Linked DNA regions of Homo sapiens. The protein of the gene in region 1 interacts with the protein of each later gene in a pairwise test. Each region holds a gene or a part of one and is shown in the gene's direction. Other genes may lie near its edges.

The links.
Region 2: the proteins of LRRC25 (region 1) and SPNS3 interact in binary tests that used the Homo sapiens proteins (3 or more experiments, as listed by UniProt).

Annotation. Positions count from the first base shown.
Region 1 is NC_000019.10:18,390,897-18,394,646, reverse strand, and holds the end of LRRC25 (leucine-rich repeat-containing protein 25 precursor), read left to right. Parts: intron 1-2,521; coding exon 2,522-2,660; 3' UTR 2,661-3,510; downstream 3,511-3,750. UniProt on the Homo sapiens protein: Plays a role in the inhibition of RLR-mediated type I interferon signaling pathway by targeting RIGI for autophagic degradation.
Region 2 is NC_000017.11:4,450,813-4,454,562, forward strand, and holds part of SPNS3 (protein spinster homolog 3), read left to right. Parts: intron 1-2,203; coding exon 2,204-2,393; intron 2,394-2,536; coding exon of another isoform or gene 2,537-2,644; exon of another isoform or gene 2,645-3,750. UniProt on the Homo sapiens protein: Sphingolipid transporter.

The DNA of each region.
Region 1 (3,750 bases):
AACATGGTGGAACCCTGTTTCTACTAAAAAATACAAAAATTAGGCCGGGCACGGTGGCTCATGCCTGTAATCCCAACACTTTGGGAGGCCAAGGCAGGAGGATCACGAGGTCAGGAGTTCGAGACCAGCCTGGCCAATATGGTGAAACCCTGTCTCTACTAAAAATACAAAAATTAGCCGGGCATGGTCGTGGGTGCCTGTAATCCCAGCTACTTGGGAGGCTGAGGCAAGAAGAATCACTTGAACCCAGGAGGTGGAGGTTGCAGTGAGCCCAGATCGCACCACTGCACCCCAGCCTGGGCGACAGAGCGAGACTCCGTCTCAAAAAAAAAAAAAAAGAAAGAAAGAAAGAAAAAAAGAAAAGAAAAGCTTTTCTAGGTTGGAAAAGGGAATGGAGGGAATTTCAAGGGGTGGGACCCTCAGGGGCAGAGACCCAGAGGTGGGAAAGAACAGAGAATTTGCTGTGAATGGTTTTTGAGAAGGGATGACTTGAAAGCTGAGGCCTGAGGGGAACAGGGAGGGCCAAGCAGGAAGGGGCCGCGGCCATGGCTGTGTTTGGGCAGCAGAGTCCGTGCCAGGAGGTGGGGAGGCTATCGGAAGGCTGTTGGTGAGAAAGGAGAAAATATGCAAAGCAGATGTCAACATGGCTCAAAAGCAGAAATGGTCTGAGGCAGGGTGTTGAAGACACTGGACTCGCAAAAGCAGCTTGTGCTCTGATGTTCATCTTGGCCTCCCTGTCCCCGAGGCTTCCGGATCAGCCTCCTTTATGTACTGGCCTCCAGAAACACTGTGTTTAGAATTGACTGTGTCATTTCCACCCTGCATCTTACAGTTACAGACATGGAGGCTCTGGGAGGCAGGGAAATGACTTGTCCAAGGTCACATAGCCAGTCAAAAAAGGCAGGACACAAACCCTGCGTCCCAGACCTGTTCGTCCCCCTACAACCACTTAGGGGTTGGTGGGCAATTCGTACTAGAGTATAATTGACTGATAGATGCTGTTAACACAAAGTAGCCCTTTTGCCTTTTTTTTTTTCCCGCTCTGTCGCCCAGGCTAGAGTGCAATGGCATGATCTCGGCTCACTGCAACCTTCACCTCCCGGGTTCAAGTGATTCTCCTGCCTCCTGCCTCAGCCTCCCGAGTAGCTGGGATTACAGGCGCCCACCATCACACCCGGCTAATTTTAGTAGAGACGGGGTTTTGCCATGTTGGCCAGGCTGGTCTTGAACTCCTGACCTCAGGTGATCTGCCCACCTTGGCCTCTCAAAGTGCTGGGATTATAGGCGTGAGCCACCGCACCTGGCCCAGTGGCCCTTTTTACAAGAGGAGCTGGGTTGGAATTAGAATGTTCAGGAGGCAGGAAAATTCTCTGGAGGTCTTGCTGACCATAACAAATATTCCTAAGTAGCTACCTGCTCCTTGACCAATTCTATAGATGCAGAAACTGAGGCTCAGAGACTTGCTTTTATATATGAGGGCCACAAAGTCAGTTGCTTCAGTGGTGAAAACATTTCCCATCGGAAGGAGCACAGAGTGTGGGTGCAGCCACTTGTGTGCATGTGACTGACGTGGCCAGAGCTTCCGATTTTTCAAGAGGAAACAAAAATTTAGATTTTAATGTAATAATGAACAGCTACCTCAATTTCTGTTTTTTTTGAGACGGGGTCTCCCTCTGTCATCCAGGCTGCAGTGCAGTGGTGTGATAACGGCTCACTGTAGGCTCGACCTCCTGGGCTCAAGCGGTCCTCCCACCTCAGCCTCCCGAGGAGATGGGACTCCAGGCACACGTCACCACGCCTGAATAATTTTTTAATTTTTTGTAGAGATGGGGTCTCACCCTGTTGCTCAGGATGGTCTCAAACTCCTGGCCTCAAGCAGACCTTCTGCCTTGGCCTCCCAAAGTGCTGGGATTACAGGCATGAGTCACCGCGCCTGGCCGCTATCTCATTTTTAAGGAAGGAAAAAGGGTTCAGGGTCCTCAGACCGCAGCGTTACACCCACAGAACCTTCCCTAAATCACTGCCCTCCCGCAGCCTCCTCAGAGAGAGGTGGGGTTGGCTAGGAGTCAGAACGCTAGCCCGTGCCAGTTTCCCCATATGTAAATATTCGGGGTGGACTGAGCCACTCTGAAGCTTTCTTTTTTTTTTTCCTTCTGAGATAGAGTCTTGCTCTGTCTCCCAGGCTGAAGTGCAATGGCACGATCTCGGCTCACTACAACCTCTACCTCCTGGGTTCAAGTGATTCTCCTGCCTCAGACTCCCGAGTAGCTGGGACTACAGGCCTGTGCCACCATGCCTGGATAATTTTTGTATTTTTAGTAGAGACGAGGTTTCATCATGTTGTCCAGGCTGGTCTTGAACTCATGATCTCAGGTGATCCACCCACCTCAGCCTCCCAAAGTGCTGGATTACAGGCGTGAGTCAGAGCACCTGGCCCACTCTGGACTTTCTCAAAGCTCATGTGCCTGTCCCCTGAGTCCTCCCCCTCCCACACTTACCCCTGGTCTGTCTGTCCCCCCAGGGCTCACCCTTCAGAGGACAATGACTTTTACATCAACTACAAGGACATCGACCTGGCTTCCCAGCCTGTCTACTGTAACCTGCAGTCACTGGGCCAGGCCCCAATGGATGAAGAGGAGTACGTGATCCCCGGGCACTGAGCCTAAGATGTCCTAACCTCCACCCAGAACCCCTTCAGTCCCTGCTGGGTGACTCAGGGCGTCCTAACGCCTCCATGGCCTCAGTTTCCCCATCTGAAGAATGGGTACAGGAAAGGATTGTCCTTGAGGCCCCAGGAAGCTCTGCCGCCCCCTCCCTGTCCCTCATGCCGCTCCTCAGCTCCCTCAGCTCCTAGAGGGGGAAGAGGAGAGACCCCCAACAAGGGGACAGGACGGTCACTGTGCCAATCCTGTCATCACCCTCCTGTGGATGTACAGGCAGTGCTCAATAAATGCTTCGAGGCTGATGAGGCTGCTGGCTCAGGGTGCGTGGGTTCCTCAAGGTGGGGATTTCTGAGTTCTAAGACCAAGTCTCCATCTGAGACTCCCAAATTGCTCCCCACCTCCCATCCCTGTTTTTTTTTGTTGTTGTTGTTTGTTTGTTTGTTTTTGAAACTGAGTGTCACTCTGTCACCCAGGCTGGAGTGCAATGCTGCGGTCTCAGCTCACTGCAACCTCCGCCTCCTGGGTTCAAGTGATTCTCCTGCCTCAGCCTCCTGAGTAGCTGGGATTACAGCACCCGCCACCATGCCGAGCTAATTTTTGTATTTATAATAGAGATGGGGTTTCGCCATGTTGGCCAGGCTGGTCTCGAACTCCTGACCTCAAGCGATCTGCCCGCCTCGGCCTCCTGAAGTGCTGGGATTACAGGCGTGGCCACTGCGCCCAGGCACATTCCTCCCTTCTGCCCCTCTCAGGGCCCCTTCCCAGGTCCCTGATCTCCAGGCTTGGCCTCCAGAGCAGCCCACACCAACCCCAAAATAAAAAAATGTATATATTCCTTTAGCTCTAATATTCTGAGAAAATCTTTCAAGACCCTGGTGCAATGCCACCTCCTTTGAGAAGCTGTCCCTGGTTTCTTCTCAGGCAGAGTTAATGACTCACAGATGTCTGTATTTCAAGAGTTTTTTCAGGCTCATGCCTCAACTGGGTTTCCTATCAGCTGGTCCCAGCCCAATCCTCCAACCTGGGGGAGATAGAACTAGAGACAAGTACCCTCAGTCCTGGGAGATCAAGCCTGGGCCAAAGGGAA
Region 2 (3,750 bases), on another chromosome or scaffold:
GGGCAGGCTGGTCTCGGACTCCTGACCTCGAATGACTGGCCCGCCTCAGCCTCCCGAAGTGCTGGAATTACAGGCGTGAGCCACCGTGCCCGGCCGAACTTACAGATCCTTAAGGGCTCTCTTGGCTGTAAGAGTCTGTGATGCTGGGAGGGCCCTGTGTGGATGGAGGGAACATGAAGGGCTTGGTAGCTGGGGCATGTCCTCTGGCTGCCCCTCCTGCTTAGGGGCTGGCGGGGGTGCATTTTCAGGCAGCCTGTCTAAATAATCAATCCTAAGTCTCATGAATATCTCGAGAACCTGCCAAGGTCAGCCCAGACCAGGACTCAGAGGCAGCTAGCATACATCCGGGATTTGGGTCATTTGACTGGGCTGAGCCAGACCTCGCACAGCTTGGAAGCCTGGGAAGGTTTAGAAAGCACTTCTTCTTCTTCTTCTTTGTTTTTTTTTTTTTTCCATTTGAGACAGAGTCTTGCTGTGTTGCTAGGCTGGAGTGCAGTAGCACGATCTCGGCTCACTGCAACCTCGGCCTCCCGGGTTCAAGCGATTCTCCTGCCTCAGCCTCCCAAGTAGCTGGGACTACAGGCGCACACCACCACGCCCAGCTAATTTTTGTACTTTTGGTAGAGAATTTAGAGAATTCTCAGTCATTTGTGCAAAGTGAGGGTGGGAGAAGAGAGGGCAAGCTACATCGGTCAGCGTGGACCAGTCCCGCAGAGTCATCAGTGCTGGTCAGGAGCTTGCTCAGAGGACGACAGGGAGCTATTGAGAGGTTGGAAAGATCCTGGTTGGACTGGTGTTTTCAAGAGTTCACAGTGGGCACAGTCTCAGCGTTCCCTTTGAGCTCCTTTATTTGTTTTGTTTTGTTTTGTTTTTGAGACGGAGTCTTGCTCTCTTGCCCAGGCTGGAGTGCAGTGGTGTGATCTCAGCTCACTGCAACCTCCACCTCCCGGATTCAAGTGATTCTCCTGCCTCAACCTCCTGAGTGGGCTGGGATTACAGGTGCCCACCACTGTTCCCAGCTAATTTTTGTATTTTTTTTTTTTTTTAGTAGAGACGGGGTTTTGCTGTATCGGCCAGGCTGGTCTTGAATTCCTGACCTCAAGTGATCCACCCACCTCGGCCTCCCAAAGTGCTGGGATTACAAGCTTAAGCCACCTTGCCTGGTCCCCTTTGAGCTCCTTTAAAAGGGGGCTGGAGGTTGCACAATGGACCAGGAGGGTGAAGAAGTATATTCAAATCCTGGTCTGTAATTTACCAGCTGGGTAATCTTGGCCTTGACTTTTCTCAGCCTCACCTTGCTCACCTATCCATCTGGGAATTGTTGCCCAAGCTGGAGTGCAGTGGTATGATCATAGCTCACTGTGGCCTCGAACTTCTGAGCTCAAGCGATCCTCCCGCCTCAGCCTCCTGAGTAGCTGGGACTACAGGTGCACGCCACCAAGGCTGGATGATTTAAAAATTTTTTGTAGAGACAAAATCTTTCTGATCTGGAACTCCTCCCACCACAGATCTCCTGCCACAAAATGCACTCCTGGGGAGCCTTTGTGGAGGTTATTTTGGAGGGACAGGTCTCCACAGGAAGGATGTACAAGGGGAAGCCAAGCAGAGTAGAAGTGGCTCTAAAAGTGGGTGGGAAAGGGACGGAAGTCAGGTAGGGGCTGCCTGAGAGGGGTTCAAAGACGGGGAGTGGAAGGATGGGATTCAAGGAGGGAGGGCGTGTAGAGAGCCCAGACAAGGGCCAGGTGTATCACAGGGGCTCAGTAAATACATGTTTGCTTCCCTCCATTCCTCTTAGTACTGGGAGCTGGAAAGAGAGAAGGTTGGGGCCAGGGTGGGACCCTGGAATTCAGATTTTGAGTGGGGCAGTTTTGGGGGGTGAAAGGGTAAGGGTCAATGGAGATGAGGCAGGCTGGGACCTGGGGTGCAGGGTGATCACCCACATGGCCAGTGGGATCCCCAGGATGAGACAGGAGATGAGGCAGGAAAGGGGGTAGGGGAGAGCAGTGGGACATTGGTCCCTGGGAGTATCAGTGAGGAGGGTGGGTAAGGTTCTGGGTCAGGTCAGGGGCCCACAGCCATATTCCCTGTAGACACCAGATCATGCACTTGAGCCGAGGGGCTAGACCTGGGGCTGGGAGCAGGATAAGAGTCCCTATGCTAAGCTCACCCAGCTGACCAACCCTTCTGTGCTCTTCCCCATCAGCCTGATTTTTGGGGCACTGACCATCATGACCGGCGTCATTGGGGTCATCTTGGGGGCAGAAGCTGCGAGGAGGTACAAGAAAGTCATTCCAGGAGCTGAGCCCCTCATCTGCGCCTCCAGCCTGCTTGCCACAGCCCCCTGCCTCTACCTGGCTCTCGTCCTGGCCCCGACCACCCTGCTGGCCTCCTATGTAAGTGAGAGCCTCTATGGAGGTGGGGACAGGGTTGGGGGGCGAGGAACTCCTGTTTCCACAGGCTCATGCTGCGCCCGGCCTTTATGTACAATTATGTTGATCACTCCTTCTGAGTAGAGCTTGTTATCCCCATTTTACAGATCAGTAAAGAGAAGCTTGGCTGGACGCGGTGGCTCATGTCTGTAATCCTAGCACTTTGGGAGGTCAAGGCCGGCCTGGCCAATATGGTGAAACCCTGTCTCTACTAAAAATACAAAAAATTAGCTGGGCATGGTGGCAGGCACCTATAATCCCAGCTGCTTGGGAGGCTGAGGCAGGAGAATCGCTTGAACGCGGGAGGTGGAGGTTGCAGTGAGCTGAGATTGCGCCACTGCACTCCAGCCTGGGCAATGGAGCAAGACTCCATCTTGGGGGAAAAAAACAGAGAGAGAAGCTTACCAGGAGTTCCACAGTGAAGAAGGGGCAGAACTGGGATTTGAGCCTGAGCTTTTCTGACTGTAAAAGGTGTCCTCTGAGCATTGGGTTAATGTGTTAATTTGAGAAAATAGGACTCATTTATTGCCAGGGCATATTGTGGGCCCAAGAAGAAATAGAGCAATTCTCCCCAGGTTACAGAGGAGGGAAGCAAGGCCCAGATTGGTTATGGCCAATGTGGACGCTGCTTTAAGGGCAATAATCATGGTAATATCAAGTGTTCCAAATCCACATCCCATCACACCCCTTCATGGGCCTCACACTCTGGCTGTGCCAGCCGTGTGGGCACACACACTTCCCAGACTTTGCACGCGTCCATTTCTTCCACCAAGAACACCAGTTCCTCTTTTGTGCATCCTGAAATCCTCCTTCTGCAAGACTCAACTCAAAGTCCGCTTCCTCCAAAAGCCTTCCCCTACCACTCTATCCTCACACCAGAATTCACGTTCCCACTTGGGCTCAGCACCTGTTTGGGTCCCATGAGGCACCAAGGTTTATGGGGCCTGTCCACAGACAGGGAGCCCAAAGGGCAGGACCAGAGCCAGAGGGTCCCTGTGTGCAGCCGTGTCCCTGGCTCCCCAAAGCCCCAGCCCTGCCTGTCCCCCAACATGGGAAAGGGCTACTGCTTCTGGGAAGATGACGCCAGCCCAGCCACAAGCAGAGGGGCTAGACCTCTCCTCCTTTCCCAGCTCCATGGCCCTGGGCCCTGTGGCTGCAGACACAGATGCGCTTGCACATGTTAACCAGGTTTACTGAGCAGACTGGACTTTGGAAAAGTAAACCAGCCACAACTTTATTGTCCTCACACTAGTTTGGCTGCATCTCCTACCCATGGCCAGAGCCCATTGCTTCTCTAGTCACACACATGAACTAAACAGTC